Linked DNA regions of Homo sapiens. The protein of the gene in region 1 purifies or fractionates together with the protein of each later gene. This does not show direct contact. Each region holds a gene or a part of one and is shown in the gene's direction. Other genes may lie near its edges.

Region 1 (4,094 bases):
CCATACTGAAAATTCATACCTATTAAACAGTAACTGCCCATTCTTCCCTTTCCCCAGCCCCTGGTAAACACTATTCTACTTTCTTTCTTTATGATTTGACTATTCTAGGCACTTCATATAGGTGGACTTATACAATATTTGTCCTTTTGTGCCTGGCTTATCTCAGTGTATAATGCCTCCAAAGTTTATCCATGTTGTACCATGTATCAGAACTTCATTCCTTTTTAAGACTGAATAATATTCCATTGTATGTACATGCAACATTTTTTAATCTATTCATCTGTTCATGGATATTTGGGTTGCTTCCACCTTTTGGTTATTATCAATAATGCTACAATGACATTAGAGTACAAGTGTCTGTTTGTGTCTCTGCTTTCAATTTCTTTGGGTATATTACTAGGAGTAGAATGGCTGCAGAATATGTTCATTCTGTGTTTGGTTACAAATATATGTGGAGGCTGAATTGGCCCCAAAGGCCACCAATTTACAAATGTGTTTTAATTTCATTTCACATTAAACTTTCCAAATGAGCTAGGAGGAGACAGAAACTTACCGTGGCTTATCACGTTCCAAGCATAGTGCCAGGTACTGGTGATAAACTGGTCAAAAAGATTAGGAGTTTAAAGTCCTAGCGTCAAGGAGTTTGAAGCTGAGTAAGAAGACGTGTGAAAAAAACATACTTTATTTTAGTACTCTGTCAGCAAATGTTTATAAATACAGGGCCCAAACAGAGAGTAGGTTGAAAAGAGGATTAGAAACAGTTTTTTTTTTTTTTTTTTTTTTTTTTTGAGACAGAGAGTCTTGCTCTGTCGCCCAGGCTGGAGTGCAGTGGCGCGATCTCAGCTCACCGCAACCTCCGCCTCCCAGGTTCAAGCGATTCTCCTGCCTCAGCCTCCCGAGCAACTGGGATTACAGGCGCGCGCCACCACACCTGGCTAATTTTTGTATTTTTAGTAGAGACGGGGTTTCACTATGTTGGCCAGGCTGGTCTCAAACTCCTGACCCCAAGTGATCCGCCCGCCTCGGCCGCCCAAAGCACTGGGATAACAGGCGTAAGCCAACTGGCCCGGCCCAGAAGAAGTTTTTAGGATATATGGAGGAAAACACAACACAACACAGCTACAACTCCGTGACAACTGAGAGCGTAGTCTTCGAGTACCCAGTTGCCTACTGACAGCCGTCTCCTCTAAGGCGCTTCTTTTAGCCAAGAAAGCGTTCTTTGCGTGCTGTGACGTAAAAAGCAGCGCCGGAAGGGAGAGGGCGGAACTTCCGGCTGAGCCCCAGCGACCGCTCTGGTCGGCTGTGTAGACTGTTGGGTAGGCTGCGTGCTAGCTTCGGCGCGGATCCCTGGGCGTCCGTACGTCGGAGTCCTTCGTCCTCCAGGGTCCCTGTTCTTTGCGCCAGCGGGAACCACTATCTCTGCACTCCTGGTAAGCGAGTTTCTTCTTTCGCCTAATGTGTGTGTTGGGGGTGGGAGGACGCCGGAGACGTTCCAAGATGCACTTAGTGGAGCATGTGCGTTCGGAAGGCCCACGGGTAAGAGGAAGCCCAGTGATTTTAATAAACTATAACTAGTACAGTACCTGAAACAAAATCAGTGGTTCCTGAAATGATGTACTTGATTGCTTTTTACAATTGGGGTTTTCATTTCTGTGGTATTCTAAGTCCTTGCCAGTTACAAGAATAAAACTTTTAAAACTCCTTCTGAAATCAATGTTTATTAGATTGGGGCCTGGGGACCCCAGTTAAATATTTCCGGGATTCTAAAGTAAATTGTTTTCTCTTTAAAGGGAGGCTGAGCCGGGCGCGGTGGCTCACGCCTGTAATCCCAGCACAATGAGAGGCCGAGGTGGGCGGATCACGAGGTCAGGAGATCCGAGACCATCCTGGCTAACACAGTGAAACCCCGTCTGTACTAAAAATACAAAATAGCCGGGCGTGGTGGCGGGTGCCTGTAGTCCCAGCTACTCGGGAGGCTGAGGCAGGAGAATGGCGTGAACCCTGGGAGGCGGAGCTTGCGCCGAGATCGCGCCACTATACTCCAGCCTGGAGTGACAGAGCGAGACTCCGTCTCAAAAAAAATAATAAAGGGAGGCTGAACTTTTTTTTTCTTTTTTTTTTTTTTAATGAAGGAAGCATCGATCTAGGGTATTAGAAAAATATTTGCGTGATTACTGTGAGCCAAATACTGTCAAGCATTGGATTCAATGTTAACATTATAGACAAAGTCCTTGTCCTCATGGACACTAGTTAGTCCTTACCATCTAGTGAGGCAAATAGATAACCAGGCAATTACAGTGCAGTGTTAGAAGTACTGTCATAGGCACCAGAGTGCTGTGAAAAGTAATGGTGGAATACTTGAAGTGTGAGGTGAAGAATAGCTAGAGATGCTGCTGACCTGGCCGCAATAAGCTTAGAAATATATGTTGGGAACAATACCAATGGATAGCAATATCCCTTGAAACAGAACATTGAAGGAGGATCAGATTGTGAAGCAAAGGTAGAGGGGTTATTTCGATTTGTTGCGTTTGAGGTGTTTTTTGTTTGTTTTTGTTGTTTTGAGACAGTCTTACTCTGTCGCTCACTGCAACAGATTTTGTTGCAAAATCTCGGCTCACTGCAACTTCCGCCCCCCTTATTCAAGCGATTCTTCTACATCAGCCTCACGAGTACCTGGGAAGTAGAAGAATCGCCCCACTTCAGCCTCACGAGTACCTGGGATTACAGGCATGCGCCACCACACCTGGCTAATTTTTGTATTTTTAGTAGAGACAGGGTTTCGCCATGTTGGTCAGGCTGGTCTCAAACTCCTGACCTCAAGCGATCCTCCCTCCTCGGCCTTCCAAAGTGCTGGGATTACAGGAGTGAGCCACTGCACCCGGCCTGCATTTGAGATGTCTTTCTAATGCATGGTCATTGAAGCCACAGAAGTAGGTCACATCTCAGAAGGGAAATGTATAGATTGAAAAAAAAGAATAGGATAGAATGCGGAGTTACATCCACCTTTAAGGGAGGGGCATCTGGACATCAGTGCACAGGTCAGAGAGCAGGAAACCTAGGAGCCTGTGCAGGGTCATTAAATGAAGCCAAGGGAAGAAGGAATTTTTCAAGTGTTTTATTTGCATTTTGTAAAAATTTGAATTCCCTTTATTTCTTTTCCTTCAAATTTGAGACAAGTTTTACATCTTTAAGCATCTTCAATATCTCATGGACATCCAGGCTTTTAGGATAAAACTGTGGAGCTTTATATACATTTATATACATTTGTCTCAATCTTGGACATTTTCTTTGTTAATAACATTATTTGCTGCAAAATAAAGCCTGAACTGGGGAAGAATTTGTTGCTATTTTTTGATCAGTAGATCTTGGTATATTTCTGTAACGAGGGCATTGGTACAGCAGTTTCTAAGTGCTTTTTACCTGTTGCCATTCTCAGTACCTTTCATGTCCTTTGTCTTTATTTGTTGCTTTTGTGAAGGATCTTATGTTTGGTTCTGTATCTGGGCTTAGTGTAGAATGGAGGAGTATGCAGCATCATGATGTCAGCTGCCTCGGTGGTACATAACTTTGTTGCCCAGTAACATTGATTCTCTGGGCCCCTAGATAAAAATCTAAAAAGGATCTTCAACTTATCCTTTTAGCTAAAGCAATAGTGAAATTCATGTCTAAAATAAGAACCCAACTTTTTTTTTTTTTTTTTTTGAGACAGAATCTCACTCTGTCACCCAGGCTGGAGTGCAGTGGCACAATCTCGCCTCACTGCAACCTCCAACTCCCGGGTTCAAGCAATTCTCCTGCCTCAGCCTCCCGAGAAGCTGGGATTACAGGTGCTTGCCACCATACCTGGCTAATTTTTGTATTTTTGGTAGAGATGGGGTTTCTCACCATGTTGGCCAGGCTAGTCTTGAACTCCTGACCTCAGGTGATCCACCCACCTCAGGCTCCCAAAGTGCTGGGATTACAGGCATGAGCCACTGCGCCCGGCCAAGAACCCAACTAAGTTTTAAACTTTTTACTCAATGAGTGATCACAGGCTGTAGACCACAGGAGTCTAGGAAAAAAATTGGTACAAAGATTTTACCTTGTGTTTCAAA
Region 2 (3,485 bases), about 49 Mb from region 1:
GGGAAATTGGGGACAGGATGCTCATAGGCTCAGGAAACATATCACCCATTTAATCCTGCATATGTGCAGGTGCAGAGTGAGATTGCTGCACAGAGCAGCACCTTCCATATGACAGTCTTAGTAATTCTGTAGGTTGGTACAATTTTTTTTTTCTTTTTAAAAATGTTTTCACAGAGACAGGGTATCGCTATATGGCTTAGACCAGTCTTGAACTACTGGGTTTCAAGCAATCCTCTCGCCTCAGCCTCCTGAGTAGCAGGGACTGTAGGTGTGTGCCACCATGCCCCACTTGGTACAATTTTTTGTACCCTTTTAGAAACTAGGAAACAGGCCCAAGAGGTGAGGTGACATTCCTGAAGTCATAGCCATGAGAGGGAGGGCCTGGTCTTGTCTGGCTGACCTCATTGCATGTGGCCTTCCTAGCACATCTCCTTCCCTTTCCTTTCCCTTCCACTTTCTCCATTGTACACATAGGGAAACCAGGGCAGGTAACATGGGGCCTCTCAGCCCCATCTGCCTCCTTGGGACCCCAGAGCCCATGCCACACAGTGCTCTGCTCAGCACCCTGCTGTGGGCCTCAAAGCCAACTGCAGCCTCCTGGGAGCAGCCAGGGACTTGGGGTGGCCACGACCACATCCCCAGAAGGAGCAACCTGGATAATGGCCCAGAACCTGACATCACGTCCTGACTGTCGTAATTAGCAATGTTCCCTGGCTAGAGCCAGCAAATGTCATTATATGGGCTTGCGGGCAGCTGAAATCTGATTAGAGGGGCCTCACTCTCCCTGGGCTGTGGGAAGTGCACAGAGCTGGCAGCCCGATCGGCAGAGGGGCTCCCCCTCCCACTAATGTTCCTGAGCCCCAGTCCCAGCTCTGGGCAAGGTAGAAAAGTCAGCATCCATGGCCTCAACCCCCTAGTCTGGCCATACAGAGCCAGCCCCTCTGGGTTGGAGTCCTCAGTGCCCACATGGTATCCTCACACATAATCCCAGGGAGGCTGAGAGATGAGGCCAGGGGGCAGGGCAGGGCAGCTGAGAGGAGCAGAGGAGGCGCTGAATTGTGGGGGGCCAGACAGTGGTGTTCCTGCACGGGTTTTGAGCAAGTGGGAGGCTTTGCTTTGTAGAGCATCCCAAAAGCAGCTGTTCTGGGGCTAGGCGGTGAGGAGTTGAGTGACTGCTGCCAGGGTTCTAGCATGGCCTTGTGTCTGATGGGGCTTAGTGGTGAGGGCCTGGAGTAGTCACGGGCTCAGTATACCTGGTGGGCTATAGGAGATAGTGTAATGTAGGCAGGTGTAACCATGAGGAGGAGCTCCAGCCAGGGGCTCTGCCTTACCCTAACTGCGTGACCCTGGGCAAGTGACTTCTCTCTGGGCCTGTTTGACCATCTCCAGCACTGGAATAAGAGGTGCCATTGTGGGGCGTTTCTGAGGCTCACAGGGCTAGGTCCCCACAGAGTGCTCAGGAGCCATAGCTGCTGCAGGGATCATCATCCCCATCACTGCCTCCCTGCATCTCCTTCCTCTAGACCTCCTGCCCCCCGAGGTCTGCAGTCTCCTGAACCCAGCAGCCATCTACGCCAACAACGAGATCAGCCTGCGTGACGTTGAGGTCTACGGCTTTGACTACGACTACACCCTGGCCCAGTATGCAGACGCACTGCACCCCGAGATCTTCAGTACCGCCCGTGACATCCTGATCGAGCACTACAAGGTGAGACGGGGGTCCTTGCCACCAACAAACCCAGGGCTTGGAGGCTGGCCAGACCCACCTTGGCCTAAGCTCAGGGCTGAGTCGTGGGGCTCCCCTGGCCCTCTTGCCTGGCAGCTGCCCTGGGCAGGTGGCTGGATTGACCCCCTGGGGTGGCCACCCAGCCAGCAGGTCTGGCAGGGCTATTGGCTTAGGCCTGGCCCCTTTCCCCCGGCAGTACCCAGAAGGGATTCGGAAGTATGACTACAACCCCAGCTTTGCCATCCGTGGCCTCCACTATGACATTCAGAAGGTGAGTGGCTGGACCTGTATAGGGGCTCCCTCCTTGGCCTCCTCTTGGTATGGTCATTACCCCTCCGTCCCATCCAGCTGGGGTTCTGGCATGGGCTGAAAGAGGCTGGCTTGGGGCCACGGTGAAACTGCCTCCTCACCATCCGTCCTGCCTCCCTGGCGCCCCCAGAGCCTTCTGATGAAGATTGACGCCTTCCACTACGTGCAGCTGGGGACAGCCTACAGGTCAGTCGGCTCTGCCCCAACCCCACCCCCGCCCCACCCTACACTGCTGTTCTGGCTCAGGACTACCTTGGACTGATGGTATCTTGGGCCTGCTCAGGGGCCTCCAGCCTGTGCCAGACGAGGAGGTGATTGAGCTGTATGGGGGTACCCAGCACATCCCACTATACCAGATGAGTGGCTTCTATGGCAAGGTACTCCATACCCCAGCAGCCAGCCTGCCCCATGGACATGTGCCCATGTCCCAAGGCAGATTTGGGGCCCTCGTCTCCAGCACTGAAGGGGTTGGGGTCCCAAAGGGTGTCTGAGACAATGGCCCCCTCCCCAGGGTCCCTCCATTAAGCAGTTCATGGACATCTTCTCGCTACCGGAGATGGCTCTGCTGTCCTGTGTGGTGGACTACTTTCTGGGCCACAGCCTGGAGTTTGACCAAGCACATCTCTACAAGGACGTGACGGTGAGGATGCTGGGCCTGCCCTCGGATGGCAGGAAAGACTAAGTCCAGCCACAGTGGGACAGCCCCACCTGGGCCCTGCTGTACCCTCATTGTCCTCCACTGCCCCCAGGACGCCATCCGAGACGTGCATGTGAAGGGCCTCATGTACCAGTGGATCGAGCAGGACATGGGTAAGTGTGGACAGAAGCCCTGCCGTGGCCGGCCTGAGCAGGTGGCAGGACTGACCCTCACAGACTCATCTGCCCCATTAGAGAAGTACATCCTGAGAGGGGATGAGACGTTTGCTGTCCTGAGCCGCCTGGTGGCCCATGGGAAACAGCTGTTCCTCATCACCAACAGTCCTTTCAGCTTCGTGTGAGTCCAGCCCCTGTGGATGGAGGGACAGCAGGGCCAGGGCTCTGGGTGGGGAGGGCAGGCACGGAGCCGCCCTCAGACTACTTGCCACCTGAAACTCCTCCACACAGAGACAAGGGGATGCGGCACATGGTGGGTCCCGATTGGCGCCAGCTCTTCGATGTGGTCATTGTCCAGGCAGACAAGCCCAGCTTCTTCACTGACCGGCGCAAGTATGGGCATGGTGGGGGTTGCAGGGCCAGGGAAGGGGAATAGAGGCCCCACCCCAATGAGGGGACTGAAGCAGGAGGCCAACCTGGCCCTTGCCCACTGCCCAATGTGCTTGGGGTGAGAACACCCCCTTGCTGGCATGGGTCCACTTGAGCAGGTGGGCCTTTACGGAGGAGGGATGGGGGTTGCCCGGCCCGTGGCCCAGCCACAGACTGGAAGTCATGCCCTTTACCTGCACCCCAGGCC
Region 3 (3,500 bases), on another chromosome or scaffold:
CCTCGGCTTCTTAAAGTGCTGGAATTACAGGTGTGAGCCACTGTGCCCAACCTGGGTTTTGCATTTTAATAGTCACTTTGTAGGAAACTGGAAATAGTAGTTGGAGGAGCCTGTGATGGTGGAAAGGGCTTAGCCCCTGCAGGAGCTGGGGCCTCAGCATGGGGTCTGATGTTGGGTGCTACTCCTGTATGTGGGACCCCTGCTTCTCTTCTTAAAACACCTCTTCTCACTATGTCCTTCTCTTCTAGGAATGGATGTATATGGCTACCTACTGGCACGAGAAGGGCGGCTAGAGGATGTTGAGAACCTTGGATGCCGCCTTTTCAATATCTCTGATCAGCATGCAGAACCGTGGGTGGTTTCTGGGTATGATTATGCATTCTCTTTTCTCCCCAGTTGTCAGTAGATTAAGAGATAATGGTTGCTCTTGAAGAGAATATAAATTGAAAGCACAGGTTTAAGAGGTAATCACCTGGACAGGCATGGTGGCTCATGCCTGTAATCTCAACACTTTGGGAGACTGAGACAGGTGGATTGCTTGAACCCAGGAGGCAGAGGTTGCAGTGAGCCAAGATCGTGCCACTGCACTCCAGGTGGGCGGCAGAGTGAGATTTTGTCTCAAAAATAAATAAATAAAAATAAAAAGAGGTAATTACTTGAGGCCAGAAATTTGAGACCAGCATGGGCAATGTAGCAAGACCCTGTCTCTATAAATATATATATATATATATATATATATATATATATTTTTTTTTTTTTTTTTTTTTAAAAGGATAATCAGCCCTGGATTCAAATAATAGTTTATGACTCTGGATGCATTATTTACCTATCTAGGTCTGTATTCTCATTTGGAAAATGGGCTAATAACCTCTCCTTCTAGGGTTAAGCATTAACTGAGTTGGTGAATGCATTGTGCTTAGTACTGAGCCATCAGTGATGGGGCCAGAAGATGCTCCTTTGTTTATTAACCTGGCTTTACAAATTCTCTGAATGCCTCTCTGCTAATAACTAATATCCAGATCATAGGTTCTTTTTCATAATTTTTCTCTTCCATATCAAGATTTCCCCTTAAAAATAAATAGTGGATTTTTTGGTTTGTTTTGCTTTTCTACTAATATCTTAGGTTAAAACTATAAGTGTGGTTTGGAATAAGGATTATGTTCAGGGCCTTCAATATGATTTTTGGATCAACTTTCTTTGTAGTCTTCTCTTGGATAACTTCTGGGGTTTTTGTGTTTTTTTTTTTTTTTTTTTCTCCAGCTGTCACAGCTTCTATAGCAAACGCTACTCCCGGGCCCTCTATTTAGGAGCCAAGGCCATTCAGCTGAACAGTAATAGTGTTCAAGCTCTGCTACTTAAGGGAGCAGCACTTAGGAACATGGGCAGAGTCCAAGAAGCAATAATCCACTTTCGGGAGGCCATACGGCTCGCACCTTGTCGCTTAGATTGTTATGAAGGTAAGAAAGAAAACATAGGTGAATGGTGTGAATCCGTGGGTGTGGCAGCAGCCCTCAGATGGAAGGTTTCATTAGGCCAGCACTTCCCAAACTCTGTTAGAATAATCTGGGGAAGCTGGCCGGACGTGGTGGCTCACACCTGTAATCTCAGCACTTTGGGAGGCCGAGACGGGCAGATCATGAGGTCAAGAGATTGAGACCATCCTGGCCAACGTGGTGAAACCCCGTCTCTACTAAAAATACAAAAATTAGCTGGGCATGGTGGCTCACACCTGTAGTCCCAGCTACTTGGGAGGCTGAAGCAGGATAATCACTTGAACCTGGGAGGCGGAGGTTGCAGTGAGCCAAGATTGCGCCACTGCACTCCAGCCTGGCGACAGAGCAAGACTCCATCTATTAAAACAACAACAACAACAACAAAAAAACATCATCCGGGGAAGCTTTTCAATATCCTGACGTTGGGTCTCTCCAGTGTAGATGGAAATACATGGAATTGGGAATAGACATCGATATTTTTGGAGGTCCCCAGGGGTTACCAATGTGCAGACAGGTTTGGGAACCACTGCATTAGGCATTTTACATTTATTTAGGGCTTTCACTGGATTTGTCACCCCATACTTTCATAATCCATTTTTTCTGATTTTTTTTCTGGTTTTTGGTGAGGGTATAGTTGGGATGGGGTTTTTTTTTTTTGTCCTCCCACCGCTCGCCCCCATCCAGTGTGGCGTACTCATTAATATGAATCTCTCTGTGTCAGACACCATGCAAGATCACTTAGTTTGCCTATTTTTTTTCTCTTACTCCTCTTTTTTTTGAGACAGAGTCTCGCTTTGTTGCCCAGGCTGGAGTGCAGTGGCATGATCTCGGCTCACTGCAGGCTCCACCTCCCGGGTTAATGCCATTCTCCTGCCTCAGCCTCCCCAGTAGCTAGGATTACACCTGGCTAATTTTTTGTATTTTTAGTAGAGACAGTGTTTCACCGTGCTAGCCAGGATGGTCTCAATCTTCTGACCTCGTGATCCGCCCGCCTCGGCCTCCCAAAGTGCTAGGATTACAGGCGTGAGCCACCGTGCCCGGGTCCTGTTTTTTTTTTTTTTTTTTGAGACAGAGTCTCGCCCTGTCACCCAGGCTGGAGTGCAGTGGCATGATCTTGGCTCATTGCAACCTCCACCTTCCGGGTTCAAACCATTCTCCTGCCTCAGCCTCCCAAGTAGCTGGGATTATAGGCGCCCACCACCACACCCAGCTAATTTTTGTATTTTTTAGTGAGATGGAGTTTCACCATGTTGGCCAGGCTGGTCTCGAACTCCTGACCTCGTGAGCTGCCTGCCTTGGCCTCCCAAAGTTCTGGGATTACAGGCATGAGCCACCACAACCGGCCTATTTTTTTTATTTTTATTTGAGATAGAGTCTCACTCTGTCACCCAGGCTGGAGTGCAGTGGTGCAATCTCAGCTCACTGCAACCTCCACTTGCCGGGTTTAAGTGATTCTCCTGCTTCAGCCTCCTGAGTAGCTGGGATTACAGGCATACACCACCACACCCAGCTCATTTTTGTATTTTTAGTAGAGATGGGGTTTCGCCATGTTAGCCAGGCTGGTCCCGAACTCCTGGGCTTAAGTGATCTGCCCAATTCAGCCTCCTAAAGTGCTGGGATTACAGACGTGAACCACTGTACATGGCCTGTTAGGCCTATTCTTTTTCGTGGCCATCTTACCTTGGGCCAGAGTTAGTACTCGTGGGATAACTCCACATCCATATGATAGTGTTGGCTGTGGGAATGGGTCTGTTCATTGTGACCTCCAGAGTGGGCACAATCAGGGTCCAACTTTGTTTTGTTATGTAATATTTTAAGTTCATGTGAATTGACCCTGGGAGTTCAAAGGAGCTGTGCCAGTTTCAGCAACGTTTGGTGACTCAGTCACAGACATTAAAATAGATCTTACAAGATGCAGTTCCTCCAAAACATATTTTTATAAGCATTTAAAAATAAACCTAGGAGTCTAGGAGTGATTTGCTCTTAACAGGAAGATGAGTTCAAATT
Region 4 (3,500 bases), on another chromosome or scaffold:
TCCTTTGAAGTAAACAAAACAGCCATTCCAAAGCCAGTGTTTCAGGATCTACTGATAGAAGTGGTTCAAAGGTTTTTTGGTTTTTTGAGACAGGATCTTGCTCTGTCACCCAGGCTGAAGTGCAGTGCCACAAACACTGCTCATTTCAGCCTTGACCTTCTGGGCTCAAGCAGTCCTGCCATCTCAGCTTTCCTTGTAGCTGGTACCACAGGCATGCATCACCATGCCTGGCTAATTTTAGACAGAGTCTTATTCTGTTACCCTCGCTGGAGTGCAGTTGTGTGATACAGCTCACTGCAGTTGTGGCCTCCTGGGCTCAAGCAATCCTCCCACTTCAGCCTCCCAAGTAGCTGGGACTACAGATACATGCCACCACACCCAGCTAATTTTTGTATTTTTGTAGAGACGGGGTTTTGCATGTTGCCCAAGCTGGTCTCACACTCCTGAGCTCAAGTGATCCACCTGCCTCAGCCTCCCAAAGTACTGGGATTATAGGTGTGAGCCACTGTACCTGGTCTCCTGGCTAATTAAAAAAAAAAACAAAAAAAAACTTTTGTAGAGATGGTGTCTCACTTTGTTGTCCAGGCTCAAAGGTTTTTTTTTTAAAGAAGTAGTGCTCATCTAATCTTTATAGATTTGTAAACACAAGCTAGTTTTATAACTCTTAGTTTAGAAGGCCATGTTAAGAAAAAGGAAACTGTGCTGGGCGCGGTGGCCCATGCCTATAATCCCAGCACTTTGGGAGGCCGAAGTGGGAGGATCACTTGAGCCCAGGAGTTCAAGAGCAACTTGGGCAACATGGCAAGAACCCATGTCTACAAAAATAAAAAATAAAAAAATTAGCAGTGTGTGGGCTGGGCATGGTGGCTCATGCCTATAATCCCAGCACTTTGGGAGGCTGAGGCAGGTGAATCACCTGAGGTCTGGAGTTTGAGACCAGCCTGGCCAACATAGTGAAACCCTGTCTCTACTAAAAATACAAAAAATCAGCTGGGCGTGGTGGCGGGCGCCTGTAATTCCAGCTACTCAGGAGGCTGAGGCAGGAGAACTGCTTGAACCCAGGAGGCAGAGGTTGCAGTGAGCCAAGATCGTGCCATTGCACTCCAGCCTGGGCAACAAAAGCAAAACTCTGCTTCAAAAAAAAAAAAAAAAAATTAGCAGTGTGTGGTGGCAGGTGGCAGTAGTCCCCAGCTACTCAGGAGGCTGAGGCAGGAGGATCACTTGAGCCTAGGAGGTTGAGGCTGCAGTGAGCCATGTTCACACCACTGCACACCATCTTGGGTGACAGCAAGAAACCCAAGTTTCAAAAAAAAAAATTGTTCCAGAAGCTTGGGTTTAATAGATAGTCCCCTCCTGTGATAGCAAGTCATAATTGATACTTAGTTCTTGAATTCTCAGCCTTTTAGTGAAGTTCTGGGGAAGTTAGCTCTTCTTTTACTGTGACTTTTAATATCTTATACAGATATGATTAATTTGCACAGAATTGAATTTCAGAGCTTCAAGAGATTGTTAACCAGCAATTTAAAAAACCCTTATGAGATTAATTTTTTCTGTATACACAATTAACTTAAGCATAGTTGTTCTCATGAAGCAAAACAGAGTAGAAAATATTATTAAAATGTATGTGAAGAAAAAGTGTTACCTTGATGCAAAAACTTAAATCAGTGACCTACTCTGTTGTATATTTTCATGGGCTACTATCTGTATGCATTATTAGTTTTCCCTACCTGTTATCTTTTGACACCTGTGTTTCATAAGCTGTTGGAAATATAATGTATACATGTTTATTTTAAATGAGTTCAGTATAAAGTTACTTTGCACCATTTGTGCCTGTTTACTTTTGCTTTGACATAGATACATCGAGATATTTCCAAGCAGAAGGAATGAAGTTCGAACACATGTCGGTTCTTATAAGGGAAAGAAAATCGCATCTTTTCCTACTGCTAAGTATATAACTGAGCCAGAAATGGTCTTTGAAGAACATGAAGTAAATGAGGATATTCAACCCATGACAGCTTTTGAAAGTGAGAAGGAAATAGGTAAGGTCCTGCCTCTTCTTGAGACTCATTGGGTCTATCTTGAATGTTTTGGGTTTTGTGATTTTTTTTTTTTTGAGATGAAGTCTCGCTCTGTTGCCAGGCTGGAGTGCAGTGGTGCGATCTCGGCTGACTGCAGCCTCTACCTCCTGGGTTCAAGTGATTCTCCTGCCTCAGCCTCTTTGAGTAGCTGGGACTACAGGCGCATGCCGCCACGCGCAGCCAATTTTTATATTTTTAGTAGAGATAGGGTTTCGCCACGTTGGCCAGGCTGGTCTGGAACTCTTGACCTCAAGTGAGCCGCAGCCTCCTAAAGTGCTGGGATTACAGGTGTGAGCCAACACACCCGGCCTAAAGATTTAATAGGACTTTACATACTTTGAGTATATGCAGAAAGGCTTAATTATTTTGCTAGGTTTTTAATTTAATCATTTTTATTAACTATATCAAAAGCTGGGTAGTAAAAATGTGATAAAAGGAAGTAAGATGTCAACATTTAAATTAAGATGGGGGAAGATTTGGATAATGAGCAGGAATATTGACTGAAGTAAGGATTTTTTTTTTTTTGAGACAGAGTTTCACTCTGTTGCCCAGGCTGGAGTGCAGTGGCGCACTCTCGGCTCACTGCAGGTTCCGCCTCCCAGGTTCACGCCATCATCCTGCCTCAGCCTCCCGAGTAGCTGGGACTACAGGCGCCTGCCACCGTGCCCGGCTAATTTTTATATTTTTAGTAGAGACGGGGTTTCCCCGTGTTGGCCAGGCTGGCGTTGAACTACTGACCTCAGGTGATCTGCCGGCCTCTGCTTCCCAAAGTGCTGGGATTACAGGCATGAGCCACTGTGCCCGCCTGAAGTAAGGATTTTTGTTTGCTTCTGGATTTAATTATTTCTTTGATTCCTAACCCAGGGCAACATTTGGAATCTTTTAAGTTTCATAAATACTTTTTAAACTGGTACCCTGGGATTATCTTGTCACTATATATATGTGTATATATATTTTTGTTTTTTGAGACAAAGTCTTGTTCTGTGGCCCATTCTGGAGTGCAGTGGCACAATCATGGCTCACTGCAACCTTGAACTCCTGGGCTCAGGCAGTTCTTCCACCCCAGCCTCCTGAGTAGCTGGAACTATAGGCATGCATCACCATGCCCAGCTAACTTATTTTTATTTTTATTTTTTGTAGAGACAGTGTCTGGCTGTGTTGCCCAGGCTGGTCTCGAACTCCTGGGCTCAAGTGATTCTCCTGCTTCAGCCTTCCAAAGTGTTGGGATTACAAGTGTGAGCTACCACGCCCAGCCTTTGTTCTTTTTTTTTTTTTTCAGTGCCTATAATCTAGAAAGTCTCTTTTAGGGTTTAATTCATAATCATTTTACCTGCTCTCTGATGTTACAAAAAGGGCTAAGTTCTTAAACTGGTAATGGTCTGAGGCATTCAGTGCTTATGGGTGTTCAGGTGATATTTGTTG
Region 5 (3,500 bases), on another chromosome or scaffold:
CAGAGAGGTTGGTGGGACAAAACCTCCTTGTCTCCATCTCACATGAGGCCAATGACAGTTAAGAGACTTAAATAGAGTTGCAGAGTCATTGTGCCAGAGATGAGACTCAGACCCTAGAGTCCCAGCTCCTAGTTTAGACCTCTTTGCCGTCTTTCAATCCATCGACAATTTGAGCAGTCATACTCCGTTTTGGAACTGAGATGATAAAGACATACATAAAACATGTTCCTGCCCTTCAGAGCTTACATCTCATTGGGAAAATAAAACCAACACATATAAATCAGGACAAGTATTGTTACTGTGGTGTTCAGAGAAGTGATGGCTGGGGTGAGCAGGACAGGTGAGTGGTGTAGGAGTCAAAGGAGAGGTGCATAGATGAGGGTAGAGTAGTCAAGGACAGCTTCTCTGCAGATGCTAACACTGGAGCTACATCTAGAAGCCCAGGAGGAATTTTTGAACTGAGGAGTGATGTGTTCGAAGAAATTCCTTATCATTTGGGGTTGAGAGTAGTATCTTCTGGAGTATCAGTAAGACCTTGAACCACACTGGTGAGGGTATGGGTAAGTGTCAACACATGAATCAACCATGAGTACTTATGAATCCTCCTTCCTCTGTCAGCTTCTTCCTGTGAGACCTACGAGTACCCACAGCGTGGTGGAGAGAGTGCAGGCCGGTCTGCTGAATCCATGAGTGATGGAGTTGGCTCTTTCCTGGTGAGTGTGGGTTAACCCAAGGGTCCTCAGGCCGGCCTGGTTAGGTAAAAGGTCACACCTTATGGAATTAAAAGCACAACCCCAAAAGATTGATGGCGTCTCCATCTTAGGACCCTGCCCAAGTTCTTGTCTCAGTTCAGAACCCTGCGTTGAGTCTTTGGACAAGTAAGATATAAGTATTCTAGTCTGGAAGAAATGTATGTGCTAAGGTAGACTGGATTACAAGGTTCACCAACCTTGTAGGTAAGCAGAGGATCTAGAATGCAATAGACCCAGGCTGCACGGTGGGGGAACCTCTAAGACAGCAACCTTACCCACGTGGCCTCACATGCAGGAGGGAGGCTGCAGTGTGAGACTCCAGGCAAGGGTGGTACTCACAGTCAGGCTAAGTGGCAGAATTATGGCTTGAGTGCAGGATCCCAGGCTGCCCTCTGGAAGATGCTAACCGCAGTTCTCCAAGGTGTCAGGCAAGAAGACCAGGGCCTGGCTTCAGGCCCACTGAAAAGACAGTGAAATCAGGTAACCAAGGCAGAAGCAGCTTAGTTGTATGTCACGGCAGATAGAGCAAGAGTTAGAGGAAGGCTGGGATTGCTGTATCACACAACTCTGTAGAAGCTCTGACTGCAGCTTGGTGGTCCCCTAGGTGCCTGGAGTGAGCCCCAGGTACTTAGAAACCTGGACTGGGGAAACACAACTGGCCCCAGACCTCACCTTCCAGAGCCAGGACTCCTAATATGCTCCTTGTTCTGATCCAGGGCCTGAGATGCTGACCTGCCAGTGGTGAGTCTGGACTTGAGGTGGAGGGCAGGTCCTGAACCAAACCTACAGTCTATGGACTATGCCACCCACAGTGTTGGTCAGGCGTCCAGAAAGCCAAGTGGACCCAGTCACCAAGAATATTTTATACTCTAGATTTATCAAAAATTATTAGTGGATGCCAAAGGATCGTGAAGGCTTGAAGGGGCCCACAGACCTCATATATTCTTGTCTCCCACTCTGCTTCCTTTTTTTTATTTTTTATTTTTTGAAACAGAGTCTCACTCTGTCACCCAGGCTGGAGTGCAGTGGCATGATCTTGGCTCACTACAACCTTGGCCTCCCAGCTTCAAGCGATTCTCGTGCCTCAGCCTCCTGAGTAGCTGGGACTACAAGCATATGCCACCACGCCCAGCTAATACTTTGGATTTTTAGTAGAGAGGAGGTTTTGCCATGTTGGCCAAGCTGGTCTCGAACCCCTCACCTCAAGTGATCCACCTGCCTCAGCCTCCCACTACTCTGCTTTCTTATTTGGTCTCCCCAAGGTCTCCCTTACAGCTTCAAAGTATAGCTAACCCAGTCATGACTTGTCTTGCCTCATTTACAAAGTCTTACCCCCTTCCTGTTTCTTCTTGCTAGTAACAGCTGTATTTCTTTCACTGTTCCTCTCCCTAGCCAGGGAAAATGATTGTGGGCCGATCGGACAGCACCAATTCTGAAGACAACTATGTGCCCATGAATCCAGGTTCTTCCACCCTGTTGGCCATGGAACGAGCAGGTGATAATTCCCAGAGCGTCTACATCCCAATGAGCCCAGGGGCCCATCACTTTGACTCACTTGGCTACCCATCAACAACCCTTCCTGTGCACCGAGGCCCCAGCAGAGGAAGTGAGATTCAGCCACCCCCTGTCAACCGCAACCTCAAACCTGATCGGAAAGGTAAGTCCATTCTTTCCCCTGTCCCATCTCTGGACAGTGGCTAGGGACTCTTTCCATTTGCTTAGGGGTCATGTGGATCCTGGACTTGAGAGGTGTGACTTGGGGCAAATCATGTAAAATCTGAGTCTCAGTTTTCTTATCTGTGAAATGCAGATGGTAATTCCTACCTCCCAGGTTTGCTGCAAAGGAGAGCATCTAGGATAGTACTTTGGTACATAGCAGGCGTTCAGTAAAGTCAGCTTTGTGCCCCCTGCATGTAGACCAGGCAAGGTCCTCGTCTGCTACAATCTCACTCTCCTGGCATTGGATCAGTGGCAAGGATTCAAAGGGAGGAGTAGGATAGCTAGGCAGAGATAGCCCCCTGTGGGTCTGGCCAACAGGGAATTCAAATCTTAGCATTTGGAACTGAAGCCCTCAAGCCCTTATGGCATCTACCTTCCTCCACTGTGGCTTGCACCGACCTGGCCAGGAGCAGCAGGGAGTAGTCACGGTGACCATCTATACTTCAAATATGGTCTCTTGGCTGGGCGCCATGGCTCACGCCTGTACGCCTGTAACCCCAACACTTTGGGAGGCTGAGGCGAGTGGATCACCTGAGGTCAGAAGTTCGAGACCAGCCTGGCCAAAATAGTGAAACCCCGTCTCTACTAAAAATATAAAAATTAGCTAAGCGTGGTGGCAGGCGCCTATAGTCCCAGCTACTAGGGAGGCTGAGGCAGGAGAATCACTTGAACTCAGGAGGCAGAGGTTGCAGTGAGCTGAGATTGCGCCGCTGCACTCCAGCCTGAGCAACAGAGTGAGACCCCGTCTTAAAAAATACATATATGTGTGTTAATATATAAATAGTATATATTTTTATAAATATTAATATATTAATATATAAATATATTTTATATATAGTCTTTTATTTTTAAATGAAGTCATAAATTGAGGGAGAAAAATCTGTTGTCAAACCCTGTGTCCCCACTTTTGATTCTGAAAATATAATTACCATAGATACAGCAGAAAGAATATATAATTTGGAATCTGAAGACATGACTTCAAGGCTCATCAATATGGGCAAAGATTATACAACCTCGCTGAGCGTCAGT
Region 6 (3,500 bases), about 52 Mb from region 1:
CCAGCCTGGGCAACATAGTGAGACTTGTCTCTAAAAAAAGAAAGAAAGAAAGAAAAGAAAAGAAAAGAAATAGGTCTTCCAGAATCCCCCCATGTGTCCTGAATCAATCATAACCCCTCCTTTTCTCTTAGAAGGGACCATTATCTGACTCTGCTTATTTCCTAGCTTTTCTTTATAGCTCTACTGCTGTGTTTGTATCCCCCTTACGGGTTTGTTCTGCCTGTTTGAACTCTATCAATAGACTCATACTATATGTATTCTTTTGTGTCTTTTTGCACTTAACACTGTGTAAGAGTCACCAGGTGGTTGGGTATAGCTGTAGCTCCTTTGTTTCCATTGCTATATAATATTCCATTGTGTGACTCTACCACAATACATCCTGTTGGTGGTGGTATTTGGTCTGTTTTCAATTTTTGGCGATTATGTATATGGCTACTATGAGCATTGTATGACTGTCCTGATGCACGAATATGTGCACTTCTGTAGGCACGTATTTAGGAGTGCAATTGCTGGTTCATAGGGTATGTTTGTTTGACTTTAGTGGTTTTACCAAACTGCTTTACAAAGGGGAGTTTGCCCTCTCCTAGCAGTGCTCACGTTCTTCATATATCCACTAACACTTGTTAGCTCTAGACCTTCAGAGATGACTAGCAGGTGGGTGGGTGGTTATAGCCCCCTTCATCTGTAAAATAGCTGAAATTTAAATAAACTGTTTGATAAGCCTTTTTTTTGAATGTATAGAATACAAAACTATTCCCTTATATATCAGCTTAATACATTTTTTCATATGTAGGCTGTTGCACTTCAGGCAGCCAAGCTGAGTAGCTGGATGTCTAGCCAGAAAAGCAGGGGTAGGATCTAAGCCTGCCTATCCTCTAGCCCCTCCTGGTATGGTCTCTGCCCCTAGCTTGGCCTGAGCCAGGTTGGGGTCTCCCAAAAGCAGCCCCTATGTTGTGGGGAAGTGGAGAGTAGTACAGCTAAGCCAGACCCCATTGTGCCCGCAGGTTAGAGCCTGGCAATGCCGTTTGGGTGTGTGACTCTGGGCGACAAGAAGAACTATAACCAGCCATCGGAGGTGACTGACAGATATGATTTGGGACAGGTCATCAAGACGTGAGTGCCGGGCCTGTCAGGCAAGGCTGGGTGGGCTGGTGAGCAGGGGCTAGGGAAGTGGCAGTGGAGTGCAGCTGATGCTAAGGCCAGGCCTGAGTGGGTGCCTGTCGGCTGCAGTGAGGAGTTTTGTGAAATCTTCCGGGCCAAGGACAAGACGACAGGCAAGCTGCACACCTGCAAGAAGTTCCAGAAGCGGGACGGCCGCAAGGTGCGGAAAGCTGCCAAGAACGAGATAGGCATCCTCAAGATGTGAGTTTGAGGCCTGGGATTGGGGCGGGGTGGGAGGCAGCAGGGAAGGGCTTAGAGGGCAAGTGGCCTCAGGCAGTCCCAGCCTCTGGCCAATTAGTCTGCTGTGGCCACTGTGGTGACCACAGCCTCTCCCAGGGGTTCATCCAGCCCTAACTACTGGCTCCCCTCCCTGTCGCCAGGGTGAAGCATCCCAACATCCTACAGCTGGTGGATGTGTTTGTGACCCGCAAGGAGTACTTTATCTTCCTGGAGCTGTGAGTGTGGGTCTGGGGACCCAAGATTCCCCAGCGCCCAGGGCTTTCACCTGTCCCACCCTCTGCAGCTAAGGAAACCCCCTTTCTGGACCCTTGGCGTCCCAGGTCCCTGTGCCTTGCTCAGCCAGCTGCCTGGCGTAGGCAGCTCACCCAAGTGCTCCTGCCCTACCCCTGATTCTGCCCACGCCAGGCTCAGGGGCTGGTGTCCCTCAGGGCCACGGGGAGGGAGGTGTTTGACTGGATCCTGGACCAGGGCTACTACTCGGAGCGAGACACAAGCAACGTGGTACGGCAAGTCCTGGAGGCCGTGGCCTATTTGCACTCACTCAAGATCGTGCACAGGAATCTCAAGGTGAGGGCAGAGCCAGAGTCAAAGGGCCAGTTGGCAGCTGGGCTGGTGCTGGGGTGGGCAGCACCTCAGGGCCTTGGTCTAGCCTCCAAGGTCCTCATGGTGTCTTCTGCTCACCCACATGCTATTCTCACACCACAGCTGGAGAACCTGGTTTACTACAACCGGCTGAAGAACTCGAAGATTGTCATCAGTGACTTCCATCTGGCTAAGCTAGAAAATGGCCTCATCAAGGAGCCCTGTGGGACCCCCGAGTATCTGGGCAAGCAGGGGGTGGGGCAGGGGCAGGGGGATAATGGGGGGCAGCCTTCAGGGAGCTGCTCTGGGCAGGGGGAAAATGTGCTCATCTCAGGAAGCTGGTGTGGATGGTACTGGACCTGGCTAGGCCTGATACTGACCAGCAGATGGGCGCTGTGTTTGTAGCCCCAGAGGTGGTAGGCCGGCAGCGGTATGGACGCCCTGTGGACTGCTGGGCCATTGGAGTCATCATGTACATCCTGTGAGTGGACAGATGGACAAGCAGGCTTGCAGTCAGATGGGGTGGGGGCATGTGTCTGTGGCCTTTCTGTGTGACCCTTCCCCCATGCAGGCTTTCAGGCAATCCACCTTTCTATGAGGAGGTGGAAGAAGATGATTATGAGAACCATGATAAGAATCTCTTCCGCAAGATCCTGGCTGGTGACTATGAGTTTGACTCTCCATATTGGGATGATATTTCGCAGGCAGGTGAGGAGGTGCCTGCCCAGCACTTGGTAGAACGCAAGGGAGTGGGGAGGGTGTCCTGCTCTCATCTTCCTCTGTGGTATTCTGCTTCTGTCCCCCAGCCCATTTATCACCTCTAGACATTGAGATGGGGTGCCCATGACTATCCCCTTCTTGGTTTTGTCCACAGCCAAAGACCTGGTCACAAGGCTGATGGAGGTGGAGCAAGACCAGCGGATCACTGCAGAAGAGGCCATCTCCCATGAGTGGTGAGCAGGGTCCAGGGGAGGGTGGGAGAGGCCAGGGTCCCCCTCACACCCAGCAGCCCCATCTTTGAGGCCTGGAAGGGGTGCAGGTACCTAGAGCTCAGGGCAGCCCAGAGGCTCTGCCTGGTAGTCCCTGGATGCCACATAGAAGGGCTGAGCAGAGTCTCCACAAAGGCTCATTCTCTCAGATCCAGACACACTTGCACCCTTTCCAGGATTTCTGGCAATGCTGCTTCTGATAAGAACATCAAGGATGGTGTCTGTGCCCAGATTGAAAAGAACTTTGCCAGGGCCAAGTGGAAGGTAAGGCTTGGATAACTCCCTTCTTGGCTCTATCCCAAGTATTGCTTCTGGCACTCAGTTTCTTGCCTGCATCACACCCCTGCAGCCACACACAAGCTTTTCTCAGGCCATCAGGTGTGGGTGTAGCCACTGTGATTACCTTAAGTAGGAGTGCTGAGCAGCTGAGTACTTGGCCCTGGGGTGGATGGAGGTGGCCGGGGGTACTATGGAAGGAGTTTGGTTTGGTCACTGCCAAGCAATGGATCCAGCAAGCCTCACCCTTAG
Region 7 (3,138 bases), on another chromosome or scaffold:
CAGATTCATCAAGATCCTCGATAGTGTCCTGCACCACCTGGTACCTGCCTGGGACCACACACTGGGCACCTTCAGTGAGATTAAGGTGAGCCGACCCAGCCAGTGCTGGTCTTGGCATTTCCCCTTCCTGCTCACGTAGTTGTTCATTCCTTAGCAGAGTTCCTAAAATCTACTCTAGGGCAAGACCTTTGCTGGGTCTGGGAACATAGGAAGAAAGCCAGAACAAATGGTCCAAATTTAGTGTTTGGGAGGCTGTTCCCCAGCCTCCTTGGTATTCCAGAGTGTGTGGAATACCCAAGGGCTATTGACAGCACAGGCAGGGCAGTTTGCGTGAAAGGTACATACAGGGAGTTACCAGCAGCTCAAGATGTCTTGAGAAAAGTGTGCCAGTAGGTGTGAGTATGACAGAGGGATGAGGGTGGAAGGATGTGGGCAGGAGACAGGTCCTGGTTGCAGAGGGCCCTGTGGGCCAGGCTGTGAAGCAAGGACTTTGTCCCAGGGTAGTGGAGCTGTTGGAAAGGTAAGGAAGGTAATGACAGTATTAGATTTTTTTGTTTTAGAAAGCTCTCCCTGGTGGCTGAACTAAGGAGGGGACTGGAGACAAAGACAGGGATGGACTAGACTTGAACTGAAACGGTGGAATTGGATACAGGCAGAGGGGAAAGTTCCAGGGCCTGGACGGAGGCTGACTGCCCACTCATTCCTGCTCTGGCCACCTCTCCTCACTAGCAAGTGAAGCAGTTCCTACTGCTGTCCCGCCAGCGGCCAGGCCTGGTGGCTCAGTGCCTGCGTGACTCTGAGAGCAGCAAGCCCAGCTTCATGCCACGCCTATACATCAACCGCCGTCTTGCCATGGAACACCGTGCCTGCCCCTCTCGAGACCCTGCCTGCAAGAATGCAGTCTTCACCCAGGTCTGCACCACCTAGGGTCCGACTGAGATAGGATCAGTCAAGGGCCAAGGGGGCTAGGCCAAGAGGGACCTGAACAAGTTCTTGGGGCAAGTATAGGGCCAGGTCTTGCTTTCCTATGACTCCTTTCCTCCTTGCCTCCAGGTATATGAAGGCCTCAAGCCCTCTGACAAATATGAAAAGCCCCTGGACTACAGGTATGGCATGAGAGTGAGGGACTTACTCGGGACACCTGTTTGTGCACACAAACACACACAAACACACACACACACACACACACACACACACAACTGCTCGAGGCACCCCTCGCCATGACTGCTTTTCCCAGGTGGTCTCTGAGCTGATGAATTGTGCTGCACCTGGCCCCACATAATGACAAATCTGCCCACGTTTTTTGCAGGTGGCCCATGCGCTATGACCAGTGGTGGGAGTGTAAATTTATTGCAGAAGGCATCATTGACCAAGGTGAGGCCCTGAGGGAGGATCTCAAGGGTCCTGCTTGCTGCCCTATCAAAGTGGTAGAGGCTTTTCACCAGCTAATGATGATGGGGGACCTATTCATTACCCCATTATGGGAGCTGGGCTCTTGAGTGCCCAGCTGAGGGCATCTGTCATTTCAGGGGGTGGTTTCCGGGACAGCCTGGCAGATATGTCAGAAGAGCTGTGCCCTAGCTCAGCGGATACCCCCGTGCCCCTGCCCTTCTTTGTACGCACAGCCAACCAGGTAATCTCCGTTTCCATCTCTGCAAACCTCCCAGGTGCCAGATTGAGCTAGAAAGGGGGCAGAGGAGGGGGCCAGATTGAGCTAGAAAGGGGGCAGGCACAGTGGCTCACGCCTGTAATCCCAGCACTTTGGGAAGCCGAGGCGGGCAGATCACGAGGTCAGGAGTTCAAGACCAGCCTGGCCAATGAAGTGAAGCCCCATCTCTATAAAAATAAAAAATTAGCCGGGCGTGGTGGCACGCGCCTGTAGTCCCAGCTACATGGGAGGCTGAAGCAGGCGACTCGCTTGAACCCAGGAGACGGAGGTTGCAGTGAGCCGAGATCACGCCACTGCACTCCAGCCTGGGTGACACAGTGAGACTCTGTCTCAAAAAAAAAAAAAAATAGAAATAGGGCAGAGGAGGGACTGAGTTGCTCAGGGCAACCTCTGGGCAGACAGGGAGAGGAGGAGCCACTGTGCATTTGAAGGGATCATTTAGTGGAAAATGTTCCCAGTGGAAAATGTTCAGGGAAGTCTTTGGGCCAGGAAAATAGGGTGTATCTCATGCCACACTCACAGCTCTGTCTCTGGGGCAGGGCAATGGCACTGGTGAGGCTCGGGACATGTATGTACCCAACCCCTCCTGCCGAGACTTTGCCAAGTATGAATGGATCGGACAGCTGATGGGGGCTGCCCTTCGGGGTAAGGAGTTCCTGGTGAGTAGCCTTATCCACACCCCCGTCCGATCAGCCCTGGCCCTTGGAAGGAAAGGCCAGCCAAACCTGGGCAGCTCAGGGTGAGAAGACAGTGGGGAGTGTTTGTCACACAGGTCCTGGCCCTGCCTGGTTTTGTGTGGAAGCAGCTTTCTGGTGAGGAGGTGAGCTGGAGCAAGGACTTCCCAGCTGTGGACTCTGTGCTGGTGAGTAGGACCTGGAACCAGTGTTTCCTCTGCCCAGCCCCTAAAGGTTGGTCCTCCCTAAGGCTGTTCTGTACCTTGTTCTTTCACCACACACAAGATCCCTCTCCAATCCATCCACTCCCATGGCTTCAACTACTGTCTGTAGACTCGTGACCCCTAAAATCCTGACCTCTAGCCCCAGCCTCTCCTAAGCCTGGGGCCATATATGTATCTGTACCCTCGACGTTTGCCCCAAGATGGCATCTCAGGCTCAGTGTGTTCTTTATCTTCTCCGAAGACTACTCCCCTCTAGGGCTCCTGCCTCAGAAGGGCACCATGTCCCACTCCTCCCCATCCCAAAGCCCACAGGGCCATCCTTCACCCCTTCTTCTCCCTCGCCACCATATTCTTAAGTCTTCCTCTGTAATCTGTTTGCTTTTCCTGTCTCACTACTGTCTCCCTGCCTGGTTGAGGACACCTTTCCTCCTTAGCTAATCACTTACTAAAAAGCTGGTGTCCCTGTCTCCGTTCTTACCCGTTTGGTCTCCATGCAGCCACAGTAATTCATTTCACTCTCCTTATTTAAACTCATTGATGGCTCGGCCCTGGGCTTAGGATAGAATGCAGA

The links.
Region 2: the proteins of TRMT10C (region 1) and NT5DC2 purify together in Homo sapiens (co-immunoprecipitation; one study listed by IntAct). This does not show direct contact.
Region 3: the proteins of TRMT10C (region 1) and ANAPC7 fractionate together in Homo sapiens (co-fractionation; one large-scale study listed by BioGRID). This does not show direct contact.
Region 4: the proteins of TRMT10C (region 1) and GRSF1 purify together in Homo sapiens (affinity purification with western blotting; one study listed by BioGRID). This does not show direct contact.
Region 5: the proteins of TRMT10C (region 1) and GAB2 purify together in Homo sapiens (co-immunoprecipitation; one large-scale study listed by IntAct). This does not show direct contact.
Region 6: the proteins of TRMT10C (region 1) and CAMKV purify together in Homo sapiens (co-immunoprecipitation; one large-scale study listed by IntAct). This does not show direct contact.
Region 7: the proteins of TRMT10C (region 1) and HECTD3 purify together in Homo sapiens (affinity purification with mass spectrometry; 3 studies listed by BioGRID and IntAct, with this or other methods). This does not show direct contact.

The regions. Positions count from the first base shown.
Region 1 is NC_000003.12:101,560,574-101,564,667, forward strand, and holds the start of TRMT10C (tRNA methyltransferase 10 homolog C precursor), read left to right. Parts: upstream 1-1,294; 5' UTR 1,295-1,430; intron 1,431-4,094. UniProt on the Homo sapiens protein: Mitochondrial tRNA N(1)-methyltransferase involved in mitochondrial tRNA maturation. Component of mitochondrial ribonuclease P, a complex composed of TRMT10C/MRPP1, HSD17B10/MRPP2 and PRORP/MRPP3, which cleaves tRNA molecules in their 5'-ends.
Region 2 is NC_000003.12:52,527,373-52,530,857, reverse strand, and holds part of NT5DC2 (5'-nucleotidase domain-containing protein 2), read left to right. Parts: intron 1-1,523; coding exon 1,524-1,708; intron 1,709-1,922; coding exon 1,923-1,997; intron 1,998-2,165; coding exon 2,166-2,221; intron 2,222-2,318; coding exon 2,319-2,412; intron 2,413-2,546; coding exon 2,547-2,675; intron 2,676-2,784; coding exon 2,785-2,845; intron 2,846-2,926; coding exon 2,927-3,029; intron 3,030-3,139; coding exon 3,140-3,241; intron 3,242-3,482; coding exon 3,483-3,485. UniProt on the Homo sapiens protein: Promotes dephosphorylation of tyrosine 3-monooxygenase TH which decreases TH catalytic activity and leads to reduced synthesis of catecholamines including dopamine, noradrenaline and adrenaline.
Region 3 is NC_000012.12:110,379,709-110,383,208, reverse strand, and holds part of ANAPC7 (anaphase-promoting complex subunit 7), read left to right. Parts: intron 1-248; coding exon 249-366; intron 367-1,260; coding exon 1,261-1,457; intron 1,458-3,500. UniProt on the Homo sapiens protein: Component of the anaphase promoting complex/cyclosome (APC/C), a cell cycle-regulated E3 ubiquitin ligase that controls progression through mitosis and the G1 phase of the cell cycle.
Region 4 is NC_000004.12:70,826,391-70,829,890, reverse strand, and holds part of GRSF1 (G-rich sequence factor 1), read left to right. Parts: intron 1-1,854; coding exon 1,855-2,039; intron 2,040-3,500. UniProt on the Homo sapiens protein: Regulator of post-transcriptional mitochondrial gene expression, required for assembly of the mitochondrial ribosome and for recruitment of mRNA and lncRNA. Binds RNAs containing the 14 base G-rich element.
Region 5 is NC_000011.10:78,222,321-78,225,820, reverse strand, and holds part of GAB2 (GRB2-associated-binding protein 2), read left to right. Parts: exon of another isoform or gene 1-618; coding exon 619-713; exon of another isoform or gene 714-749; intron 750-1,091; exon of another isoform or gene 1,092-1,211; intron 1,212-2,144; coding exon 2,145-2,409; intron 2,410-3,293; exon of another isoform or gene 3,294-3,500. UniProt on the Homo sapiens protein: Adapter protein which acts downstream of several membrane receptors including cytokine, antigen, hormone, cell matrix and growth factor receptors to regulate multiple signaling pathways.
Region 6 is NC_000003.12:49,859,907-49,863,406, reverse strand, and holds part of CAMKV (caM kinase-like vesicle-associated protein), read left to right. Parts: exon of another isoform or gene 1-32; intron 33-1,004; 5' UTR 1,005-1,018; coding exon 1,019-1,113; intron 1,114-1,230; coding exon 1,231-1,362; intron 1,363-1,541; coding exon 1,542-1,616; intron 1,617-1,829; coding exon 1,830-1,968; intron 1,969-2,106; coding exon 2,107-2,227; intron 2,228-2,388; coding exon 2,389-2,464; intron 2,465-2,554; coding exon 2,555-2,691; intron 2,692-2,857; coding exon 2,858-2,936; intron 2,937-3,148; coding exon 3,149-3,236; intron 3,237-3,500. UniProt on the Homo sapiens protein: Does not appear to have detectable kinase activity.
Region 7 is NC_000001.11:45,005,187-45,008,324, reverse strand, and holds part of HECTD3 (E3 ubiquitin-protein ligase HECTD3), read left to right. Parts: intron 1-3; coding exon 4-85; intron 86-729; coding exon 730-912; intron 913-1,053; coding exon 1,054-1,106; intron 1,107-1,309; coding exon 1,310-1,374; intron 1,375-1,529; coding exon 1,530-1,633; intron 1,634-2,208; coding exon 2,209-2,328; intron 2,329-2,441; coding exon 2,442-2,531; intron 2,532-3,138. UniProt on the Homo sapiens protein: E3 ubiquitin ligases accepts ubiquitin from an E2 ubiquitin-conjugating enzyme in the form of a thioester and then directly transfers the ubiquitin to targeted substrates.